Linked DNA regions of Homo sapiens: region 1 is linked to region 2. The links come from fine-mapping of genetic effects on gene expression. A gene starts in region 2. The other region holds a variant in brackets. All regions are shown on one strand. Distances are between the middles of the regions. Region 1 overlaps ARL10 (ARF like GTPase 10). Region 2 holds the start of SIMC1 (SUMO interacting motifs containing 1).

Region 1 (12,148 bases), 130 kb before region 2:
AAATAACAAATTCTTATAAGATTGAAGCCCATACATGGAAAGCTGAACCTGAATATCAAGGGACTGCCCTGGCAGATTTTCATGCTAAATCAGATAGTGCTGAAACAGTTAGGATGTGCAAATTGAATGAATGCCACTAGATTGATGACCTTTATGATGACCCATCTAACAGTGCAATGCACCTGATGTGGAAAACCAAAATTGTTATCTGACAGACGTAAACATAATGTTAAGCGTGAACTCATGGAGAGCCTAGATGGCCCCCTGGTCCTTCCTGAGCCCTTGAAACTTCTATTGTTAAAAGCTTTGCACTTGGCCAGGCACGGTGGCTCTTCCCTATAACCCCAGCACTTTGGGAAGCTGAGCTGGACTGACAGCTTGAGCCCAGGAGTTCAAGACCAGCCTGGGCAAGAGGATAAAACCCTCTCTATAAAAATTACAAAAAATTAGCTGGGGATGGTGGCGCACACTGGTAGTCCCAGCTACTCAGGAGACTGAGGTGGGAGGACTGCTTGATCTCTGGAGGTGGAGGTTGTAGTGAGCCATGATTGCACCACTGCATTCCAGCCTGGGTGACAGAGTGAGATCCTGTCTCAAAACAAAAAAACAAAAAACAACCTCTGCACCTCACAAATGAGCAAGATGATCCAGATTATAAAAAATACTGATAGTGTGACCACTGTAAAATGCTGAAATGGGTTATAACCAATATCTGGTTTGTCAAACCCATAATCCAGGGAAGATAATAAAAACTCCAAGTGGTGTATTTCCACCAACACCTGATGGACCATTTGAACGCTTACAGATGGACTTCATTCAACTGCCACCCTCAATTAAGTATCAGTATGTTCTTGTAATAGTTGGCATGTTTTCTGGTTGGATAGAAGCTTTCCTGTGTAGGAGAGCTGATGCTATGGCAGTAGCTAAGGAGTTATAAGAACATGTGTTTCCTTTATGGGGCATCTCTGGAAAAATCTCCAGTGACAGAGGAACTCATTTTATTGGACAAACTATGAAGCAGCTAAATAAAGTGTTAGAAACACAGTGGTACTACCATTGTCCCTTTCACCCTCAGTCTTCTGGAAAGGTCAAAAGGACAAATATTTTAAAACTAAAATTGGCAAAATTAACTGAATCGATTGGATTATCTTGGCCAAAGATACCACCATTGGCTTTGAATTTCATTTTTTTCTGATCTCTGAAGAAGAAAGCCAACCATTGCCTTTGGTCAGCAGATCAGATCCATTCCTACGACAGACACAGATTGACCCCTATGAAATAGTTACTAGAAAGCCTGTGCTCCTAACAGAACTTCACGTAGTTCCTACTCTCCTAAATGCTGATGCCACTAAATACTACAAAGCTGTAATGCATTATGTCACACTGTATTTTGACAAAATAAAATAAACTTTCTGTGACCCACAGAGGACCATCAAAGCCTTCACAATCTGTAACCTGAGACTAGGTCTTCTGGAGATGGTATCAGAGAAAAAGTGCCCTTAAACCTCACAGAAAGAGACAATACCAAGTTCTTCTATTACCCACACTGTGGTAAAACTTCAGGGCTTCGAACCTTGGGTCCACATCTCACAACTCAAAAGGACCTCTCCAGACTCCTGGAACTACACACCTGTTGGAGACTTTAAGGTAAAGCTAACCAGGGAAGTTTTTCCCCAGAAGCAGATCACGTCCTAGACATGAACAGCTTTCCCTAGATGTGGATGAAGACTTCACTGCAATCGCAAAAATCTTATCTTTCTCCCTCTCTTTCCTATTTTCTGTCCGCAAATCCTTTCCCTTTCTTTATGGGAAAATCCGTGGGACCATAATCTGGGGCCGGCTTTAGCAAAGGCTAATGCTCTAGCAAGAAACTGGAGTTCCTGTTGGGTTTGTGACTTAACGCTCAAATCAGGAAACGATTCCATTAATGCCAGTATCTCTCCATTTTCCCAATAAGTCACCCTGAAACCCCAAAGGAAGAGTGGAATGCTAACCTTTTTTTTTTTTTTTTTTTGAGACGGAGTCTCGCTCTGTCTCCCAGGCTAGAGTGCAGTGACGTGATCTCAGCTCACTGCAACCTCTGCCTCCCAAGTTTAAGTGATTCTCATGCCTCAGCCTCCCTAGTAGGTGGGACTACAGGCGCATGCCGTCACACCCAGCTGATTTTTTGTATTTTATAGTAGAGACAGGGTTTCACTGTGTTAGCCAGGATTGTCTCGATCTCCTGACCTCGTGATCCGTCCACCTCAGCCTCCCAGAGTGCTGGGATTACAGGCGTGAGCCACCGCATCCAGCAGCTAACCTTGATATTCTAAACACCACTACTGCTTGCTTCCCTACACTCATTGGAAGTGGTACCCTGACCTTTTCAATTAATAAGTGCCAATATGGAAAAAAACCTGTCCAGGTAATGCCTATGCAAGGAACACTGCCTACACCTATGCTTTCAGGCACCACATATTCAGGACCTGGGAACTACCTATGTGGCTCCAAGCGATTGCTTATATAATGTCACTGGGTTAAATCCAGTAGGGTTCCTTCTCACTGGCTGTGGTTATGCACCCTTACAGCATGCTATAAAGGGACCACATAAAAATAAGTTGCCCACTGGACCTTGTTTAGGAGCTGTGCAGACTTATGGGGGAACATAAGTGACCCCTGCTCAAATGCTACCAGGTGGCCCCCACTTTCCAGCTTCAGAGGGTACATATTAGGTCTGTGGATAATTTGCTTACTCTGTCCTGACTTCAGATCTTGCTGTTTCACCTGATTCATGCTCACCTTGCAAACAGCTTTCCCTGAAAGTCCCCATAATCAGAGGTCAAAGACTAAAATGAATACCAACCTTGAAACAGATGATTAGTTAGTTTCCCCTGAGCAAATATTCCAGTGGAGTTCCTGCGGACTCACTTTTGGCGGCAGTGAGGTGCCAACTGTATGGAAATTAAAGTTAATGCTAAATTGAAAAGAATTTTGTAGCACAGAGATTCGCACAGGTAGAAGCCACAGATGGATGGATGGATGGATGGATGGGTGGATGATGGATGGATGGATGGATGGATGGATGGATGGATGGATGGATGGATGGGTGGATGGATGGATGGGTGGATGGGTGGATGGATGGAAGGATGGATGGATGGATGGATGGATGGGTGGATGGGTGGATGAGTGGATGGATGGATGGATGGGTGGATGGGTGGGTGGGTGGGTGGATGGATGGGTGGGTGGGTGGATGGGTGGACGGGTGGACGGGTGGACGGATGGAGGGATGGATGGATGGATGGATGGATGGATGGATGAGGCCACCTGTGTTCAACAAAAACACGTAATGGAACTTCATGCAGCTTTAGATTTCCTTTGCCCAGCTAGGAGCTTGTGTATGGTGCTGAACAAAACTGAACGCTGTGCTTATCTTTCCTGATTCTACTACTATGGAGAGCTTCAAAAGGCGGTGGTGGCTGCCGCTTCTGTAGATACTGCCACCAAACACATCAAGGATATTTCTCAGGGAAAAGGAACACATAATGTGTTTGCAGGAGCAGCTAGTGGTTGGTTTGCAGGCATCCTGAATGGTAGACAGCAAGCTTAGCTGTTCAAGGTTTTCTAATCTTCATGTTTCTTTTAGTGGGTATCCCAATCACCATGACTTGTGTTACCAAAAGCTAACTAAAAAATCAAACACTTTACAATTAAGGTACTTCATAGTGAACTATGTCCTTAATTGCCATTATACCCTGAACAGGCTATGAGCAGCAGAGCTTGCACGCTGTTGAACTATTTTTATCGTCTGAACTTGAGTTGTTTGATTCCAATCAGTTTGGTTTGTGGAGACTCATATTAAGGGATGCATTCCAGTTTCTTGGTATTACACTCCTGATAGCCATCCTAAGGTCCCCACTGATGTGTTGTAGTCTTAAGTACACCAATGCAGTCATCCTTTGTACCTCAAATGGTCTCATTACGGTTAGAGTAACAGAAACATGAAGACATACAGAATCCGCTAACTGATTTAACATTGTAAACTGTGAGTTCCATAATGAGGTCAAATAGTGACAGAAGGTAGTGTCAGTGCGTGGGATTTTGGTCAATCTCTCAAAATTAAGGGGCTGAGCAAAATGAGGGACACTGTGAAGCTGAATTAAGTCTGGCCTAAAGCTGCCTCTGTACACAGTGAATTGTAACTTAACGTGTAAACAACTCGTAACCTAACCTAAAAGTATGTTCTTCTAACAAGTAGCCGAATTTTAGCCAATCACAGCAGCCAAACCTTCAGTCAATCGTCGGCTGAAGGCTGCTAAAACATGTTCAGGTAAGGCAAATGCCAGACTGCAGCCAATCAGGCAACCTAAGTTATTTTCGTTTCTCTGGCTATAAATGTAGCCTACACACATTGTGGGGCTGAGCATTCTGAACTGCTTTTGGTGCTAAGTACTAACCAGTTCACGAATCTTTTTTCTGCTCAAAAACAGAACATACTTTTTAAACTTCGTTAAAGTTGTCTAAGGTTTTTTTGCCTTCAAGCCCTGAAGAACAAGGAGTTCATAGAACAAAGGAGAAAAGTCTCTTAGCCTTCCAATGACAAAATGAAAAGCTGCCAGCAAAGTTTCAAAGGCTACTCTGAAACCCAAGTCATTCTTAAAATTTTACATAAAAGCCCATAAATCACTTCTTACTGCAGAAAGTGAACCAGCACTTTCAAGAACAGTGATTCTTCAAATGGCGCCCAAGGGCACAGCAGCCACTATTCCAAAGATCACACTCGCTTCTGGACTTCAGAATTTCCCACCCTCCTTGCGGCTTGTTGAACTGTTTTTATCATAGTTCCTCTTCTTACACTGGTCACGGTGTGGAACTGAGGCATGCTGGGTAAATGTCAAATGAAATGAAGGCACACAATCTCTATTCTCAACTAGACAGCAAATTGAGGTGCACAGCTCCTCTTAAAAAAAAAATCCATTTGTGGTTGTTGATTTAGTGGTCCCTAACAGACAACAGGCTCCTCTTTGCCTGTACC[G/A]ATAATAAGTGTCAGTACAGAGCCAGTCCTTCAATTGGGCTGATCGCCAAGCACTGGAGAACTATGGAATGTGCACTGATGAGAACTCCAGAAATTCAGTCCAACTTGGCTTTCACTGGGGAAAAATTGGGTCCAGAAAGGCTGAGTGATGTACCCAAGGCCATCCCGTTGGCTGGTCTGCTATTCCTGTCCTTAGGATCACATAATACAATTTTTTTCCATCTTTTTACCTAGATTCACATAAGGGAAATCCTCTCCCAGAGTCATTTCTTATCTACCCAGAAGGAATTTGCACCCTTTCAACATCCTGGGCCAAGTGGTGGCGTTTCAGTTCATGTGAATCCATGTAAAGTACTATGATATCGACGACAGCCTCAAAGCCAGGTGGGAGGAGGAACCCACAACTTTGTCTCCACTGACATCTGTATGTTATCTCATTGTCATTCATGATTCCAGCTATTTTCCTAAGTTCCAAATTTTCTATGACTGTCATCTGGGGTTTTGAAAACAGCACCTAGAAACAGAGCCTAGAACTCTGGCCTGTTCTGCTTATAAATTAATAAATAAAATGCAGTTCTGAGGTCAACACCTAGCTCCAGTTGACTGTCGTCCCAGGGACACAGGCTCCTTCCTTCCCCTGACTTCTGTAAACATGGGCACTGGCACAGTTAGTACGAGAGCAGCAGCTTGTCTCCAGATTAGAGGGGAAAAACCCAGCCTTCACTTTTTCTGTTTGGTGGGTGAATATCAGTTATTCTGTAGTCAAGAGAGGCTGGCAGGCCAGGCCTGGGCTCAGGGAAAGGCAGGGAGGTCTTCAGAAAGCTCCTTGCTAGGATGGCCAGGTTCATCCTAGCACTTCACACTCCCATGGCTGGGAAAGGCATCTCCGAATTAGGAAACCACCTCCCTTTAAAAATAATGGCCCTGGGGTCAGAGAGGCAGAGATTGCACAAGGCCACAAGTCACTTAGGTGGAGCTGGGGCTGGACAATGCAGGACAGGAACAAAGGCTTGCTGTGTCACCACTCAGAAGCTGCCCACATGAGAAGGGCATGACGTCACCAGACTGTTTCTGGACTGGGAGACCTTGAGGCTCTAGGAGTATTTCTGACACCTACACTGGTTCCTCAGGTACCGGGACCTGTAGTGGAGGATTGAGCCCACTGAGCATCTCACTGTACAGGTAAGAGAAGGGAAAGCTGGATCCACATTCCAGCCTGGAATGAGCCAGACACTATCCTCCCCACCCTCTGTCTCACCCACCTCCCTGCTTCGGCTTCACGGCCACCTCACCAGGAAGGCTTCTGCATGGTTCTTGGCCTTGCCCAGGCCCTGCTCTTGAAAGGCAAAGGAGGGGAAAAGGGAAATGCTGCCATGTGGCTCTTGCCCCAGGCCCAGTCTGGCAATGAAGCAGCAGCAGTACAACTATGGTCTTGACAGGCAGGTGGCAAGCAGGAGAGCTCCAGCCTAGGAGAGGAGCTCCAAGAGCAGTTTCCAGATGTGCACGGTGCCAGGCTCTTCAAAGGTGGGTCCTGCAGGGGCAATGCTGGCTGCCAAGAGGAAAACCTCCCGCTGGTTATCGATAGCCTGTAGACCCAGCTCCCGCTGCAGCTCCCCCATACTCATGGCCTCGCTCAGGTCCTGGGTGAGACACAGAAGTCCGAACACAGCTGGCAGCATTTCCTAACACACTGACACCCTTGTCGTTCATGAAACACACTGTTCTTAGGCTATCCCCGGGAATATCAGGAAACACACTGTTCTTAGGCTATCCCCGGGAATATCAGGAAACACACTGTTCTTAGGCTATCCCCGGGAATATCAGGAAACACACTGTTCTTAGGCTATCCCCGGGAATATCAGGCCCCAAGTTCCCAGAAGTAGCCTCTGGACCCCTTGGCCTAAACTCAATGCTCTCTCCCTCACCCTGGGCTCTCCTTTGTACCAACCTCTTTTCATTGCATCATTAGCCACTGTTTTGAGACGGAGTTTTGCTCTGTCACCCAGGCTGGAGTGCAGTGGCACGATCTTGGCTCACTGCAACCTCCACCTCCTGTGGTGGAATCCTGAAGCGATTCTCCTGCTTCAGCCTCCCTAGTAGCTGGGACTACAGGTGTGAGCCACCACGCCTGGCTAATTTTTGTATTTTTAGTAGAGACGGGGTTTCGCCGTGCTGGCCAGGCTGGTCTCGAACTCCTGACCTCAGGTGATCCACCTGCCTCAGCCTCCCAAAGTGCTGGGATTACAGGCATGAGCCACCACGCCCGGCTAGAAATAGAGCACTTCCTATGTGTCAAGCATTGTAGATAGGCCCGTATATACTTCAGCTTATTTAATGTTCACAGTCCACACTTAATTGATGAGAAAAGTAGCTCAGGGAGGTGACATCATTGAGCTAAGGTAACAGTGATAGGTGGTAGAGCCAGGTGCCAACTCAGGTTGGTTTGATAACCAAGTTTCCTAAACTCAGTCATGGAGAGATGATACAGTAGGATCACTTCCAGACAAGACCTCTAGAAACTAGCTGGAGGAAAACAAGGGACCACTACACAGCATGACTGGTGATGGTATGTTGTAATTTCAACCCTGGCCCAAGATTTAAATGATTCTTCCTGGAGCAATTCAGAGACTGCTGGGACCTTAGATGTTGTCTCCTACAGGTTCAAAACTGCTATAAATTAGTTTATAAATAGGACATGATGTGATTCCTGGTCCAAACTGGGGCAATCTGAGGCTCAGAGCGGGCACTATTAATAGTGCCAGAACAAGAGTCGTAAATGGGGACTGTCTTGGACAGAAAAGGACATACAGTCACCCTATTTATAAATAATTGTCAAATGTTTCCTAATAGGTTGGGGAATCTGAGGTCGAAGACATACAGTCTCTCTCCATGTCAAGTTGGAAACAGGTCCCACAGCTCTCAGAGGCACCTGAGTTTAGGCCACAGGAAATATGATCAGACTCTGTACTCTGGCAGTTTCACCTGATATTGAGAATGGGACCCAAGGTCTGTGATACTGAGGGTTCCTGGGCCCAAGGCGACTCTCTGGCACCCAAGAGAGGTACAGCACACTGGTTAAGAGGAGGAACTTTGAAGAATATCTGAGTTCAAGTTTGGGCTTTGCCACATGCCAGCTGCAACTCCAGGTATTTAGTGTAACAGCAGGGCCTATCACGAGGTATTTAGAGGGAAGTGAGGTCATGATTGTCAGGTGCTTACCACATGTATGGCACACCGTAAGCACACAATAAATGTTAGCTGTTATTTAACCTGTTCTACCTCTCATCAGTTACCAGCTTCAGCTCTCTGATCTAGAGCCAGAATTTGCAAGGGCATAGCAGAGTGGAAAAGGTACAGCTTTAGCATTACACGTCCCAATTCCACTATTTTTTTTTTTTTTTTTGAGATAGGGTCTCGCTGTGTCACCCAGGCTGGAGTGCAGTAGTGTGATCACAGCTCACTGCAGCCTCGACCTCCTGGGTTCAAGTGATCTTTCTGCCTCAGCCTCTAAAGTAGCTGGCACTATAGGCAGGCACCACCACACCCAGTTAATTTTTTGCATTTTTTTTGTAGAGACGGAGTTTCACCATGTTGCCCAGGCTGGTCTCGAACTCCTGGAATCAAATGATCCACCTTCCTTGGCCTCTCAAAGTGTTGGAGGTAGAGGTTTGAGCCACCACGCCTGGACCAATTCTATTACTCTCAAGATGTACAACCTTGGAAAGATTATAAGACTAGCCTGTCCCATCTATAAAATGGGAATAGCATCCCATACTTTATAGGGTCAACAGAAGCATAAGAAGAAATGTTATTCAAAACCACACCTGGGGGCCAGACACAGTGACTCATGCCTATAATTCCAGCACTTTGGGAAGCTGAGGCGGGCGGATCACTTGAGGTCAGGAGTTCAAGACCAGCCTGGCCAACATGGCAAAACTCCACCTCTACTAAAAATACAAAAATTGGCTGGGTGTGGTGGCACATACCTGTAATCCCAGCTACTCGGAAGGCTGAGGCACAAGAATTGCTTGAACCCGGGAGGTGGAGGTTGCAGTGAGCCGAGATCACACCACTGCATTCCAGCCTGGGCGACAGAACAAGACTCTGTCTCAAAAAAAAAACAAAAACAAAACACCATGCCTGGCATATAGGAGGCACTTAATAATTATTTTTCTCATCTCTCCAGAGTACGAGATGATAGGGAGGCAAAGAGGAAGGAAGACAGAGGCAGGGATCAGGACAGGGCATAGGTAGAAGAGGTGGGGGCAGCATCTCAGCCACCCTCTCCAGGCCATGGGCCCAGGCAGCGCTCCTTGCCCCTGCCCAAGCATCTCTGAGTGGATGTCACCTGGACCGAGCTGCCCTCTCACAGCCCTCACCTGCTTGTTGGCCACCACGACGACAGGCAGGTCAGGGTCCTTGTCCAGCAGCTTGTGCAGCTCCTGTCGGGCCCAGGGCAGCCGCAGTCGGTCAGCCGAGTCCACCACAAACACCAGCACATCCACCTCGCTCACAAACTCCTTCCAGTAGAAGCGCAGGTTCTGGCTGCCCCCAACTGAGGAGAGGCCAGGGGCCAGCTCAGAGCCTCCCGGGCCCCCGCTCACTGCCCACAGCCCCCACCCCACCCCGGGCCCCCGCTCACTGCCCACAGCCCCCACCCCACCCCGGGCCCCCGCTCACTGCCCACAGCCCCCACCCCACCCTGCTTCTAGCTTAGTGAGCTTCCACCAGCCGGGGGCAAGGAAAAGACCGCAGTTTCCGCAGCTACTCAGACTGGATTTAGCTCTAGCTCTGATAGGCGGGTCTCTTGGGGCAAGTCCCTAGCTTTAAGCACCAGTCTCCTCACTGAACTTTCCTAACGGGTTGTTGCAGTAAAACCCACAGGTACCACGTGCGATGTACCTTTCACGGGACTGACACACAGGTGCTCAGTAAATGGAAGTCTTCAGTTCTCTCCCCTGGGTTGTCTGGCTTTGCCTCTTGCTAATTCCTAGCTTTCTCCTACAGGTTCAAAACTGTCAGTGATGGCTGTGACAGGAGCCAGGAGTCCTATTGTCTAGAAAACTCAGGACCCCCTGCCCTGCCTATACACAGCCATTCTCCATTCAGTTTCCCCCATCCCCTTCTTTTCCCTTGGAAATGTCATATTTCATCCTATGAACACATGGTTGCCAACACAGTCCCCCAGCCTGGATCACCTTTCTTTTCCTCTCTGCTCCTCTGCACAGTCCCATTGGTCACCCCGCACCCTAGTGTTTCTGGCTATGTTTCTGACACTTGAGGATTCTAAGCTGTGAGAGTCAGAGGCACTTACCTCTGAATCCCCACAAAGCCCTCAGCACAATGCCTGGCACATAGCAGGCACTCAACAAATATTTACTGAGTGCTTGCTAGGTGCCAAGCACTGATCTGGGTGCTGCAGATACAGAGGTGAGCAAGGCAAGCAGGGGCCCTGCACCAAGGAGCTCCCTCCCTAACTGGGAAGGACATGGCAATGACATCAACACATTTCAAAAAGGAAAGAAATAAAACAGAAAAAAGGGAAAGTGGCTGAGGTGGAACAGGGGTTGGCCCTGGATTGGGTGGTCTGGGTAGGTCTCATCAAGGAAGTGGCATGTGAGCTGAGTGGGATGATGAGAAGGAGCCAGCCATGGGAAGAGGCAGAGGAAAGCATTCCAGACAGAGGGGAGAGCATGCTGGAAGTGTCTGGGAAACAGAAAGAAGGCTGGGGTGCTGAGGCACTGCAAGAAGGAGAAAGAGATGGCTGTGAGGCTGGCTGGGGCGGGCCACATGGGGCCAAAGACCACAGTGAGGGGGTGGGGAGCCCCCCAAGGGCTTTAAGCAAGAGTGACATTACCTGACATGGGTTTTCTCTAGCTGACACTAGGGACAGAAGGGGAAGCAGGAAGACCAAAGAGGAGGCTGTGGTGCTGAGAGGAAAGATGACACTAGTTTGGGCCAGACAGGCAATAGTGGAGGAGGGTGTGCCACTGCCCACTGCCATTCCAGCCTGGGCGACAGAGACCCTGTCTCCAAAAAAAAAAAACTAGAATGGTGGGGTGCGATGGCTTACGCCTGTAATCCCAGCACTTTGGGAGGTCGAAGCGGGCAGATCACTTGAGGTCAGGAGTTCAAGACTAGCCTGACCAATGTGGTGAAACCCCCGTCTCTACTAAAAATACAAAAATTAGCCGGGCGTGGTGGCGGGCGCCTGTAATCCCAGCTGCTCAGGAGGCTGAAGCTGGAGAATCGCTTGAACCCGGGAGGAGGAGGTTGCAGTGAGCCGAGACAGCGCCATTGCACTCCAGCCTGGGTGTCACAGTGAGACTCCATCTCAAAAAAAAAAAAAAAAAAAAAAAGACTAGAAAGGTGGGTGACCTTGGATTCATGATACTACTGCTGGAACTCATTTTCCTCTGGAGATAACGAGGGTAGTGACCGATTCTAGTTTTATGTAATTGTTTAGGGGAGTTTTCTTAAGCAATGCCCGTCAAGTGCTTGGCATATGAACCCTTAGCTGTTAGTATCTCTGTGTTAGGCCTATCGACTTTGGTAGGGGTGATGGGGCAGGCGGTGCAGCTGGAGAGGCCCGATCACGAAGGGCCCTAAATGTCAGAGCACAGAGCGTGGGCTGAATCCTGTGCCCCGGAGAGCGGTGGGAAGGATTCGTAGAGGGGAATGTGCTGCTTAGACATGCATTTTGGAAGCCCCCTTCCCTGCAGAGAATCCAGGACTGGTCCAGTAGAGGAGACGGGGAGATGGGGTAGGGTGTCCGCTCACTTTCTAGCAGGTCCACCTCAAAGTCCTTGGTGGGCAGACGCACGGAGTTGAAGCCCCAGGTGGGGATGTGGCCTTCCAGCGGTGGCTTCCCCGACAACACGCGCAGGAACGTGCTCTTGCCTGCGCCATCCAGCCCCAGCACCAGCACCTCGCGCTGTTCCAGCTCCTCCAGCGCCGGCTCCTCGTCCTCCTCGTCCTCGGGCTGCGGGGAAGCGGAGGTAAGGTTGCGGCTGGCGGCCTCCCGAAGGACCTTTCCCGAGGGAAGACCGAAGGCACCAGAGGGCCCAGGCCCGCCTTCCACCCGTCCTGGGACAGGCAGGCATGGTCTGGATGAGTGGGACGAACGCCGCCTTT
Region 2 (12,764 bases):
AATCTGAGGTAGTGGGGGGTTAGAACTTCAGCACATCTTTTTAGGAGATACAGTTCCACCTATAACAATCTTTAATATATAAGTAGATTTAACAAATGAGTAAGAAATGTTGGCCGGGTGCGGTGGCTCATGCCTGTAATCCTAGCACTTTGGGAGGCCGAGGTGGGTGGATCACTTGAGGTCAGGAGTTTGAGACCAGCCTGACCAACATGGTAAAACCCTGTCTCTACTAAAAATATAAAATTAGCTGGGCATGGTGGCACATGCCTGTAATCCCAGCTGCTTGGGAGTCTGAGGCAGGAGAATCACTTGAGCCAGGTAGGTGGAGGTTGCAGTGAGCTGAGATTGCGCCATTGCACTCCAGCCTGGGCAACAAGAGTGAAACTCCCTCTCAAAAAAAAAAAAAAAAAAAGGAAAAAAAAAAAGAAACATTATAACACTGCAACAGAAAAATGGGCAAAGGACAAGCATAGGGAATTTGCACACATACCCTATGTGTTTCCAATAAACATAAGCAAGATGTCTGGCTGTACTGCATGTGAGCACACTCCTTTATCTCCAACCTCACTAGCTGCTCTTCCTCCCTTGGGACACTATGGTGTTCCCTTGGGCTAGGTTCTGGATGTTCTTCCTCTTGTCACCTCAACCTAGATGATTTTATCCAGGTCAATGACTTCACTATAACCTATGCGCTAACAAGACTAAATTTGTATCTCTAGTCAGGACTTTTCTTCAGAGCTCTAAACTCAGTACAAATGTTATACTTGGCATCTCCAGTTGGCTATTCCACAGGCATCGTTAAGTTTTATACCTTCAAAACAGAACTCTTGAATCTTTCCTCTAACCCTGTTCCTCCCAAGTCTGCTTCATTTCAATGCATGACACCAACATGCATTCAGTTGCTCAAGCCAGAACTCAGGGCATCCTTCTTCATTCCTTCCTTTCCCTTGTTATCCACATCCAAGTTATCAGGACCTGTTGATTTTATTTACTAAATATCTACATCCCTCCACTCTCCCAGTCTGTACCACCACTCCAGTCCAAGCTACAGTTATTTCTGACCTGGACTACTACAGCCAACCTTCTAACTGATCTCCCTAATTTCACTCTTCCCCTCTTACAGTAGGGTGACTACACTTCTGCTTTGTTTGGGACAGTTCCAGTTTTCACCTGTTGCTTGACATCCTGGTCCAGTTAGCATCCCTTTTCATTTGCAAAAGTTTCCCAATTGGATGATAAATTATATGGTCTCCCTACCTTACCATCTTTTCTTTTCACAGTAGCTAAAGTCATCTCTAAAAAATGTAAATCAAGGCTAGGTGCAGTGGCTCACGCCTGTAATCCCAGCACTTTGGGAGGCCGAGGCGGGTGGATCATGAGGTCAGGAGATCTAGACCATCCTGGCCAACATGGTGAAACCCCGTCTCTACTAAAATACAAAAAATTAGTCAAGCGTGGTGGTGTGCTTGTAGTCCCGGCTACTCGGGAGGCTGAGGTGGGGGAAATTGCTTGAACCTGGGAAGTGGGGGTTGCAGTGAGCCGAGATCGCACCACTGCACTACAGCCTGGGCAACGCAACAGAGCAAGACTCCATCTCCAAAAAAAAAAAAAGTAAATCAAATCATGTCACTGTCCTGCTTAAACCTTCAAAGATTTCTTACTGTATTACAATAAAATCCAAATCCCTTATTGTGGTCTCCAAAGCCCTATAACCTAACCTACCTACTTCTCATCTCTTCTGACTCTGTCCATCAGTCGTTACATTGCAGCCTCACTGGCTTTCCATTCTTCCAGTAAGTCATGCTCATTCCCGCCTCCAAACTTTTGGTTTTGTTGTTCCCTTTGACAATGCCTTATTCATCTAGATCTTATAACTAATTTGTTGTCATTTTAGTCTCAGGTCAAATATTAACTCTTCAGAGAGGCCTTCTCTGAAAACACAATCAAATGTTCCCAATCCCACCAAAGTTACTATTATACTGTTCTCTTATTTGTTAGTTTGTTTACTGCCTATCTTTCCACAGTAGAATGTAGTTCCATTATCATCTTGTTCACCTCTGGTCCCCAGGGTTACAGCATATGCTCAATAAATATTTATTGAATAAATGAATCATAATAAAAAAATAAAAAATAATGACATCTTATGGAATCTGGCTATCAAACAGCAAAGATTAAAAGAACAAAAATACCGTATTTTTTCCCCTAACACTCTGTATTATCACCTGACATTACATTTATAGTGTTGTTTACTATCTGTGTCCCCTCAGTAAAATGAAATCTCCATGACGGCAGGGACTTGGTTTTCATAGATGTATTCCCAGCACCTCTAAGAGTGCCTGGTATATAATAAGTGTTCAATAAATATTTATGGAATAATGTAACAATACCTAGGGGTGACTAGGCAGCAGAGAAAGAGATATGATTGGCCATATACCACTGGTAAGAATATTAATGCACAATTTCTGTAGGAAATTTGGCAATACAGTTGATTCATGAACAACACAGGTTTGAACTGCATGGGTCCACTTACAAGAGAGTTTTTTTCAATAAATATATTGGAAAATTTTTTGGCGATTTATAACAATTTGGAAAACTCACAGATGAACTCCACAGCCTATAAAAATTGAAAAAAACTAAGAAAAAGATATGTCCTGAATGCATAAAATATATGTAGATACTAGCCTATTTTATCCATTTACTACCATAAAATCAACACAAATCTATTATACAAAGTTAAACTTTATCAAAATTTATGCACACAATCACTTACTGACCATAGATGGTGACATCTGCAGTTGACAGAAATGTAAAGATGCAATATTAACTCACAACTGCATATTTTTAAATTCATTATTTTTTTCTTTTTAATTTGTATCACAACTGCATAAAATTTACCATAGACTACACTGTACTACCGTGATAATAATGTCCTACTACCACAGACATCTGCTGCTGCTGTGGTGGGCTCAAGTGTTGTGAGGATCCACTTAAAACGCCACGTGACACTAATCAATTTCTGCACTACTTCCCAGTAAACTGTGTATCACGGTAACAAGTGTTCTCTCCTGGGTTTTTTTCCACATATACTTGTTTAATCATGTGTAGGGTAATATCGTAAACCTTGAATAACACCATGAAACCCATACAAAGTGCTTAGTGATGCTGGATGTGCTCTCAAGAAACAGAGAAAAGTCATGACATAAGAAAAGCTGAATCGCTTGAGATGTACCGTAGATAGAGGTCTGCAGCTGTGGTTGTCCCCTATTTCAGACAGATGATTTATCTTGTAAACAGACGATGTAAACCTATGGTATTGACAAATGCAGTATAGTACTGTAAATGTATTTTATCTTCCTTATGATCTTAACATTTTTCTCTTGCTTACTTTATCGTAAGAGTCCATATAACATACAAAACATGAGTTAACTGCTTATGTTACTGGTAAGGCTTCCAGTCAACAGTAGGCCACTGGTAGTTAAGTTTTCGAGGAGTCAAATGTTACATGTAAATTTTCAACTGCACGGGGGGGTTAGCAACCCTAATCCCCGTGTTCTTCAAGGGTTAGCTACATATAAAGTAGGGCACACCTTTTGACTCAGCAATCTAACTTCTAAGAGGAACTTAATAAACAAATGAACAAGAGTACAAAGATTATGAGGGAATTTTTCACTGGGTTCTTAGAGAAAATTTAGAAACGAAGGCATAATATCCATTAAGAGGAGGTCATAAAAACATGTATGGGGAGGACACATAGGTATGTATGTATGCACATGTGTGTATGCAAGTAAACATTTACATAGACATACATCAAAATGTTAACATTGGTTATCTTTGGATAGTGAGATTACGGGCAATTTTAATTTTCTTCTTTATACATTTATAAAAATTGTATAATTAGATCAACAAAATTAACCATCTGAAAATGTTCTGTTTTTATAAGTAAAAAAACGAAAAACAAAAAATCCCAAACGAAAAAGCCATGATAAACACAGAAACACACCTCATCGACTCAGTGAAGACTAAAGCCCAGGTTAAGAATCAAGAGTTCAGAAATGTCAACTTCAGCATTAGACATGGCTTTCTCAAGTTCAAGCAAGTTACTTCCCCTTAGTCAATATCTATTAAAAAAAAAAAAAAAAGATGTAAAAGTTGCTTCTTTTATTTCATTGCCTGTGAAGCTCAAGAGGGACAGGCCTGGGCTTAGAAACAACACAAAAAGTGGCAAAAGCTATCATTTATATGAGATCCTTTCCTTGCATTTGTCTCATTAAAAATTTAAAACCATCCTGCTAGGTAGGCATTAATGTTCTCAGGCTCAAAAGCTGAGAGTTGACAGAACTTTCCAAAACTCAAATAGTTGCTATGCTGGAGATATTGATTCAGAAGTCTCTCTGACCTCAGAGCCTTCAGGAAAAGCTACAAAGAAAAGGGCACTTTTAGACTTTATAACCTTGCAAGTCTCTCAATGCCTCTGATCTTTTACATGGTTATCATACCACTCTTATCTAATTTGCAAAAAAGATAAAACGAGAATAAGCTTGGAGCTTTTAGAGAGCTGGAATAAATATCTGGAGAAGCACGATTTAAATTGGGTACTGCTCTCTGGAACTTGCCCCTCATTTCGATTCAACTCAAAGGCTCAAGATCAAAATGCTTGCTTGAGTGGTCACAAGTGAGGGAAACAGTGAGAGACTACGCCCATGTACGTATGTGAAAGACCACAAAAGACTGAGATAAGCATGGCATCTGACCACTGAAGAAGGAAGCTGGACCAGAATGAGGGAAAATGGACAACACTTGGGAGGAAAGGAAGCAAGTGGGAAGGACAAAGTTAAACAGGTAGTGAGAGAAGAGGCTATAGGAATGAGGAGGAACTAGGAGGAAAGAAGTATTTTTTCCCTTCCACCTTTTTTCTCTCTCTACTCTTTTCCTTGATGATCTCAGTCACTATTAGGCCTTCAATACTCCTTTCTGTTTGCATGATTGCCAAATATCTCCATTCTTGCCTTTTCTCCAACTACTGAGCTGGCCACATCCATCTACATTTCCTATTAACACTGTAAATCCAACAGGTCCAACCTGAATTCAGCATCTCCTTCATCTCAAGCCTGCTGCTACTTTTATATGCACTTCTCTTATACTTATCAAACATCCATCTAAACCATTCTCTCTCCCCATATTCTTTCAATCGTTCCTTCATCCAACAAATACTTATTGTGCATCTATTATGTCCGATACATTCAGCCACAGCCCTAGATATATCCATTCACTCATGAAGTCGGGTCATTTCTATCTTGGAAATCTCTTCTCTCACTACCTCATGAGCTGCCTAACTCAACTAAATTTGTCTCTAAGACGTCCTGAGAAACCCTCTTGCTTGAAAAATAATATATATTAACTAGTTTTGCATGCTATTCATTCTATAGTGATCATCTAGCACTTGGCACTGTACCTCGGGCACAGAAGGGGTTCCCAATGGAGGTTTAGGGACTGTAAACCAGCTAGAAAGGGAACAGGGGCAGCAGAAGCTAGGAAACGTCTTGAACGAGTATTTGCATAGGAAGCATGGTAAACTGTATGATCTATACACATAACATCAGCTTGATAATCCTTGTGTTTCCGGGGGATGGCTCTGGGAGGCTGGGGAGATCGTTGGAAGCCTTCTGAGAGAAAGCTCCACCTCCCACCGCTTGAGTAGGTCCTCAACAACCACCTGATGATGTATCACCTTCTGAGGGGACCATGGATATTGTGTTCGCCGTTGTATCCCCGGCCCCTACAACATCTGGCTCATAGTAGGGATTCAATAAACATCGATGCAGGATTCTCGAAAGGCAGATAATTCACCACCTCATGAACGACAAAGACGAAGGGGTTCTGAGGGAAACAGAAATAGCGCGCGAGGTTTCCTTCCCTATTCCTTCAGGGCTTGGTACAGGGTAAGTGCTGAGGAAATAAATCGCCCTCCTGTACAACTCCAAAATCGGGCCCCTCGCTCTGCAGTCAGGCCCTGGAGCGCGGCCACCATCTGGCCCAGGCCCGCGCTTCCCTCCCTCCCAGCCTGGGCTCCTGTTACCTCCCTGCACACATCTGTGTCCACCACAGGCCGAAGAATTACGCGCTCCCGCTTTCCTGCATCGGCCCGGCCAGTACACCCGAGCCCCCACGTCCCGCCGAGGCTCCGAGGACGCCCGCGGCCCCGGCCTGAGACCCCAGCCCCTGCAGCAGGCGCGCCAGGAGCTCGTCCATGTGCTCGGCCGCTTTCCAGCCGCAGTCCTCTCGGGCTTCAGCGCTGAGCCTGGGAGGCCCGGCCTCCCCGGTCCCTGCCCTGGCCCCTGCCCCGGCCCGCCGCGCTCCCCGGGGCCCGAGAGGCCCGGAAGGAGGCAAGGCGGGAAGTGGCTGCAGCTGTGAGGCGCCAGGGGCGGGAAGCGGGCGGCGGGCCCAGCCGAGGGTCGCGAAGACGCGCGCCCCCAAACGAGGCGACGCTCACTCACCACGGTCCGGCGGGGCAGCGCGCCGGAGGTTCGCGACAGGGCCCGGCGCGGCCTCCGCGACCGGCCCGGGCGGGCGCCCCCGGAGCTCTCAGAGCCGCTGTCGTCCGAGATCACGATGAAATCCTCCATGGCTGCGGGCCCCGACCGAAGACCCAGGCAGTGGCGGCGGCGGCGACGACTTCGGTTCCTGCTTCTGAGGTGGCGGCGGCGGGGCGGCGGCAGCGGCGGCGGCTACAACCCGGGCCACCGCCACGCCGGCCCCGCCCCGAGCCCCGCCCCGCCGGGCCGCCAAGCCCCGCCCACCGGCGGCGGGCGGCTGGGGTCAGGGCCGGGGTCGCTGTGCTTCGTGGCGGCGCGGGTCCTCCGTTTCCCAGGAGGAAAAAAAAAAAGAAAAATGGAGTCGCAGCCGGCTTCGGCAGGTGTTGGGGCCAGGCGTGCGAGACGCCGAGGCCGCGGGGACTTCCCCACCTGCTTCCAACCGACGAAAGCGTGAAGTGAGGCGCGCCCAGTCCCACCCTGCCCAGGTGTGAAGCGCCTCCCGGACTGAGAGGGCCTTGACTGAGGGGCAGGGAGAGAGGTCCTGGCCCCCGAGTGACCGAGGGTAGGTGACCTGGCTTCTGGCCGAGCTAAGGGAGAGAGAGAGACCCCACTTTTTGGTGCACACGCCCATGTGTATCTGTAGGATAAATGCCTAAAAGCGGACTTATTGGGGCAAAGGCCATGTTTTTGTAGTTTTGATAAATGATGCCAAATTACCCTCCTAAATTGTACCAGTTTGCGATTTCACCAACAATATGTGTCTCTCAGGAGTTTAAACTGAGATTTAGAGCAGGGGTGTCCAATCTTTTGGCTTCCCCAGGAAGAAGAATTGTGTTGGGCCATACATAAAATACACTAATGATAGCTGATGACCTAAAGGAAAAGAGTTGCGAAAAAAAAAATCTCTTAATGTTAAACAGGGAGTTAAACAAGTTTGACGTAGACAGTTGTTCAGTTGGTATCAGGATCAGAAGCTGAAAAGGTGCACAAAAGAAGCCATGAAGTAGCAGAGGCCATGAATAATTAGATGTTGTGAATAAGCAGAAGTTATAAAGGTGAAAAAGGTTGTCCCCAGTAGAGGAATCGGTGGGTAGTTGGCTGGTTGGTTGGTTTTAGGGCAGGACCATTAAAATCAAGATAGGACCTATTGGTACACTAAATGTGGGGTATTGACAAAATCCTGCTGCTCAGGCTCCAGAAGTTTTGCAAAATATGTTAACAGATCCAAAGAATAATGTGTTTAATAGGAGGGGAATTTGTTCCTAAAGGAATGGTTATCAGGTGCTCTCCAAGCACTGTCTAATGCAGTGTTTTTCACACTTTGGTGAGCATCAGAATCCCCTAGAGTGTTTGTTAAGACAGATTGCGGCCGGGTGCGGCGGCTCACGCCTGTAATCTCAGCACTCTGGGAGGCCGAGGCGGGTGGATCACTTGAGGTCAGGAGTTCGAGACCAGCCTGGCCCACCTCGTCTCTACTAAAAATACAAAAATTAGCTGGGCATGGTGGCAGGCGCCTGTAATCCCAGCTACTTGGGAAGCTGAGGCAGGAGAATTGCTTGAATCTGGGAGGCGGAGGTTGCAGTGAGCCGAGATCGTGCCATTGCACTCCAGCCTGGGGGACAGAGCAAGGCTCCATCTCAAAAAAACAAAAACAAAAAACTCAACAAAATACAGATTGCTGGGTTGCTGGTATGGTTTGGATCTGCGTCCCCACCCAAGTCTCATGTTGAATTGTAATCCCCGATATTAGAGGTGGGGACTGGTGGGAGGTGATTGGATCATGGGGGTGGTTTCTTATGAATGGTTTAGTACCATCCCTTTGGTACGGTCCTTGTGATAACGAGTTCTCTTGAGATCTGGTTGTTTAAAAGTGTGTGGCACCTCCCACCTCGCCCCTTTCCCCATGTGATGTCCACTCCCCCTTCGCCTTCCGTCTTGATAGTAAGGTTCCTGAGACCTCCCCAGAAGCAGATGCTACTATGCTTCCTGTACTGCTTGCACAACCGTGAGCCAATTAAACCCCTTTTCTTTATAAATTACTCAGTCTCAGGTATTTCTTTATAGCAATTCGAGAATGAACTAACAATCACACATCAGATTTTCTGATTGAGAAAAAGAATTTTGGGGGTGGGGCCCTGAAATTTGCATTTCTAACAAGTGCCCAGGTGATGTGGATGCTGCTAGTCTGGGGACCACACTGTGAGAACCACTGGTCTGGTGGACGGGGAGTTTATGCCCAGCAGATTTCAGACATTCTGGTCCAATGGGTGAAGTCACCCTTGTGAAAGGATTCATTAAGTTGTCTTCATCTAAAGCTATTAAACATTTAGGGTTGTGATCTCTCACACCTGTAATCCCAGCACTTTGGGAGGCCGAGTTGGGAGAATAGCTTGAGGCCAGGAGTTTGAGACTAGCCTGGGCAATATAGCAAGACCCTGTCTCTACAAAAATAAAAACAAATTAGCCAGGTGTGGTAGCGCATGCCTGTGGTCCTAGCTACTCAGGCAGCTGAGGCAGGAGGATCCCTTGAGCCCAGGAATTGGAGGCTGCAGTGAGCTATGATACTGCCCCTACACTCCAGTCGGGGCAATAGGGTGAGACCCTGTCTCAATAAAACAAAACGAAACAAAATACACAACCATTTGGTGTGTCTGACTACCTGCTTGCTGAAACACTGTCTTCTGTAGGTTTCTGTGATGCTGTACTTCTCTCACCACTTTTTTTTAGTCTCCTTAGCTGACGCCTACTCCTCTACTCACTCCTTAAACTCTTGATGTCCCTTAGAGTCCTGACATTGGCCACCTTTTCACACGGGACCTCTTCCCTCTACAATCTCAACTATTCCCTGGCTTCAGTGATTGGTTTTATGCCAATGGCTGCCACGAGTTTATCTCAGCCCAGTCCTGTCCTTAAAACTCCAGTTGTATACATCCAAACATCTGCTGAAGCTCGTAGGCCTCTCAGGTTGAATATGTCTAAAGCCAAACTCACCTTTATGCTCCCCACACCCACAAAAAAGCCTGCTCTCTTTGTGTGTCTTATGGTGATGGCTCCACCAGCCAGCAATTGCTGAAGTGAAAAACCTGAGCATTGCACTTGATCTCTCCCCTTTCCTCAACAAGTCCTGTCTGTTTTACCTCCTAAACATCTCCTGCATCCCTCTACTTCTTTTGGCCTCTGCTGCTGATTCTAGCCAAGCTCTGGCCTACTCTACTGTGGCAAGACACAAGAGTGTTCAGATTGTATCTTTCTCATCAGCCATCCTGCCTGAAATACAGGAAACTCAGGACCCCTGGTGGTATAATACGAGAACAGCTTAAAAGTACCCTGCCCTTACTTGGCAACCCAGGTGGGATGAATACTGGCTGTGAAGTTGCCCTCCTTAAAACTATAAGTAATGTCACTTATGTTTCCTTGGCCATCCTGGATTTGTCTTGAAGTGTGCCGTTTACCCAAGACTTCCAAAGTGATTGTATGTTTTTCAGAAATTGGTGTATTTTTTTTAAGGTGACACTTTTTCATAGACTCACTCCCCCCAAACCATACATTAGTCTCATGTAAATTGAGAGGCTAATGTAGTATTTTATGCATCCAGTGAATACTGTATTTGGTGAGTACCTGCTAGATGCTAGGCTTATGTTAGGGGTCGGGGATAAAGCAGTGAGCAGGACAGCTATTACCTCTGTTCTCAAAGAGCTTAGCAGTTAAGGAGGTATCACTAGTTGGTTAATGAAGAAAAAATTGTTTCTTTTCTTTTAAAATAATTTTTAATGAAAAATTCATACATGAAAAAATGTGTGAAGATGCAAATCAAAACCACATTGAGATCCTACTTTATACCCATTTAGGATGGCTATTTTTTTAAAAAACAGAAAACAAATTTGGGAAGGGTATGGAGAAACTGGAACCACTGTGCGTTGCTGGTAGGGATGTAAAATGGAGAAGCAGCTGTGAAAAATAGTTTGGCAGTTTCTCAAAAAGTTAGATGTAGAATTACCGTATGATTCAACAATTCTACTCCTAGATATTTGCCCAGAAAAACTGAAAACGGGACTCAAACAGGTACTCGTCTGCAAATCTTCACAGCAGCATTATTTGTAATAGCCAAAAGGTAGAAACAGGTCTTCCTCAGCAGATGAATGGATTAAAAAAAGTGGTATATACATATAATAGAATAATATATTCAGCCATGGAAAGGAATTAAATTCTGATAACATGTCACATGGATGAACCTTGAGAATATTATGCTAAGTGAAATAAGCCAGATACAAAAGGACAAATATCATACAATTCCATGTTTATGAAGTACCTAGAATAGGCAAATTCACAGAGACAGATAATGGAATAATGGTTTTCAGGGGTTGGGGAAGGGGAGAATGGGGAGTTATTGTTTAATGGGTATTGAGTTTCAGCTTGGGATGACAAAGAGTTCTGGAAATGGATGGTGGTGATGGTTGCACAACTTTGTGAATGAACTAATGCCGCCGAATTGTATATTTAAAATGGTTATAATGGTAAATTTTGTGTTACGTCTATTTTACCAAAATAGAACACACTATGTGCATGGTTTTCTTTTATAAAATTTAAAAGCATTACAGACAAGGCTAAAGGCCCCTTTTGCCACTTCCCCCATCCAGATTCGCAATTCCCCCTTTTCAGTGCTGTTATGTTTATTCCTCTAGAGCTGCTTCTGTGTATTTACCTGAATTCATGTGTACTTACTAAAATTAAATACATTTTTAGCTTTATCGAATAACATATCTGCTCTGGTATAGAGTTGTTTATTTTTGAGACGAAGTCTCACTCTATCGCCCAGGCTGCAGTGCAGTGGCACGATCTTGGCTCACCACAACCTCCGCCTCCTGGGTTCAAGCGATTCTCATGCCTCAGCCTCCCGAGTAGCTGGGAGTAGCTGGGCATGCACGCCACCATGCCCGGCTAATTTTTGTATTTTTTTTTTTTTTTCAGTAGAGACGGGGTTTCACTGTGTTGACCAGTCTGGTCTTGAACTCCTGACCTTGTGATCCGCCTGCCTTGGCCTCCCAAAGTGCTGGGATTACAGGAGTGAGCCACCGCACGCAGCCTGCTATTGAGATTTGAAACCATCATTTGTGGTAAAAACATTCTAAATACAAAGCTTCCTGCCTTATTAATGGGGATTTTTTTTTTTGGTGGTTATTCATCTTTAAAATAGTTTTTCTTTTTTCTATTTTTCATTACATGGCAGGGTCAGTGCCTGCAGACCCGCTTTTGTTTATGCTAAAGCCAGCTAGCTCAAGTTTCTCCCTGCTCTAGGGAACATTCTGTCCCTTCTGTGGGATTCCAGGTCTAATCTTCCAGTTTCAGGGCACTCTTAGCTTTTCCACTGGATTGCTTCAGCAGGCGGCCTCTCAGTTTACATAACTTTATTTAAATCATTTTCTTATACTTTCTCCCTGCTTCCTTCGCATCTTCAAATTTGCTGTGATATCAAGGCCTTTGTAAAAATTTTGTTTCATTCCCTATGTTTGAAGAATCCTCATTTGAGAAAGTTAAAGCAATTGAGAATGGTTACGAAGCAGAATGTGTAACTCCATCATATTTTGATAACATCTTTCTAGATATCTCTAAATGGCCGATACTCACATGTGCAAAATTTTTACATAAATGGGATCAGACTATGCATATTGCATCACAGTTGGTTTTCTTAAATTAATATGTCCTTATGGTTTTCTGTGTCAGTGAACATGGATCTATAGTATCCATATTGTCTATTGGCTCATATTTTAAAATAGCGTATTTGCTTTATATAGAAAACCACAAAGAAGCAAGCAAAAAAAATATACCACGTTCTCCCATTCTTGGTATCCCTCATTGAACAGTTTGTAAAACTAAAAGAAACATCTTGTGAGTTCAGTAAATTCTTGCTACCAAAACTTACAAAATGAAAAGTGAAAGTTGAAAGCCACCCTCTCTTTCCTAGTTCTTCTTCCTAACACTAAATACCTTTATTAGTTTCTTGTAAATCCTTCAAAACATACTTACTTACTACACATACTTATCTGTTCTGACACACCCTAAAAATCACACTGTACAGTTATTTACTTTGCTTTTTGTAATTTATCATGGGCATTATTTCCTAACTGCAGGGTAAACATATCTGTCACTTTTTAACAGCTTACATTAAAAAGTCATTTGTTAGGCTGTGCCATAATTTATTTAATTGGTTTTCTATCATGGATATTTTGGTTG

The links.
Region 1: its variant is fine-mapped to the expression of SIMC1 in blood mononuclear cells (TOPMed, PIP 0.95).

What each region holds. Positions count from the first base shown.
Region 1 is chr5:176,366,228-176,378,375 of GRCh38, reverse strand. It overlaps ARL10 (ARF like GTPase 10), which reads right to left. Exons shown (of 4, transcript NM_173664.6): 2 at 11,795-11,996; 3 at 9,394-9,569; 4 at 1-6,654. The coding sequence ends at 6,481. MIR1271 (microRNA 1271) reads right to left here and starts at 10,430; the gene lies at 10,345-10,430. The variant G/A (reference allele first, on the strand shown) is at 5,015.
Region 2 is chr5:176,232,368-176,245,131 of GRCh38, reverse strand. SIMC1 (SUMO interacting motifs containing 1) reads right to left here and starts at 6,708. Exons shown (of 10, transcript NM_001308195.2): 1 at 6,495-6,708. The coding sequence starts at 6,623. RefSeq lists silencers at 6,747-6,866, 6,917-7,036.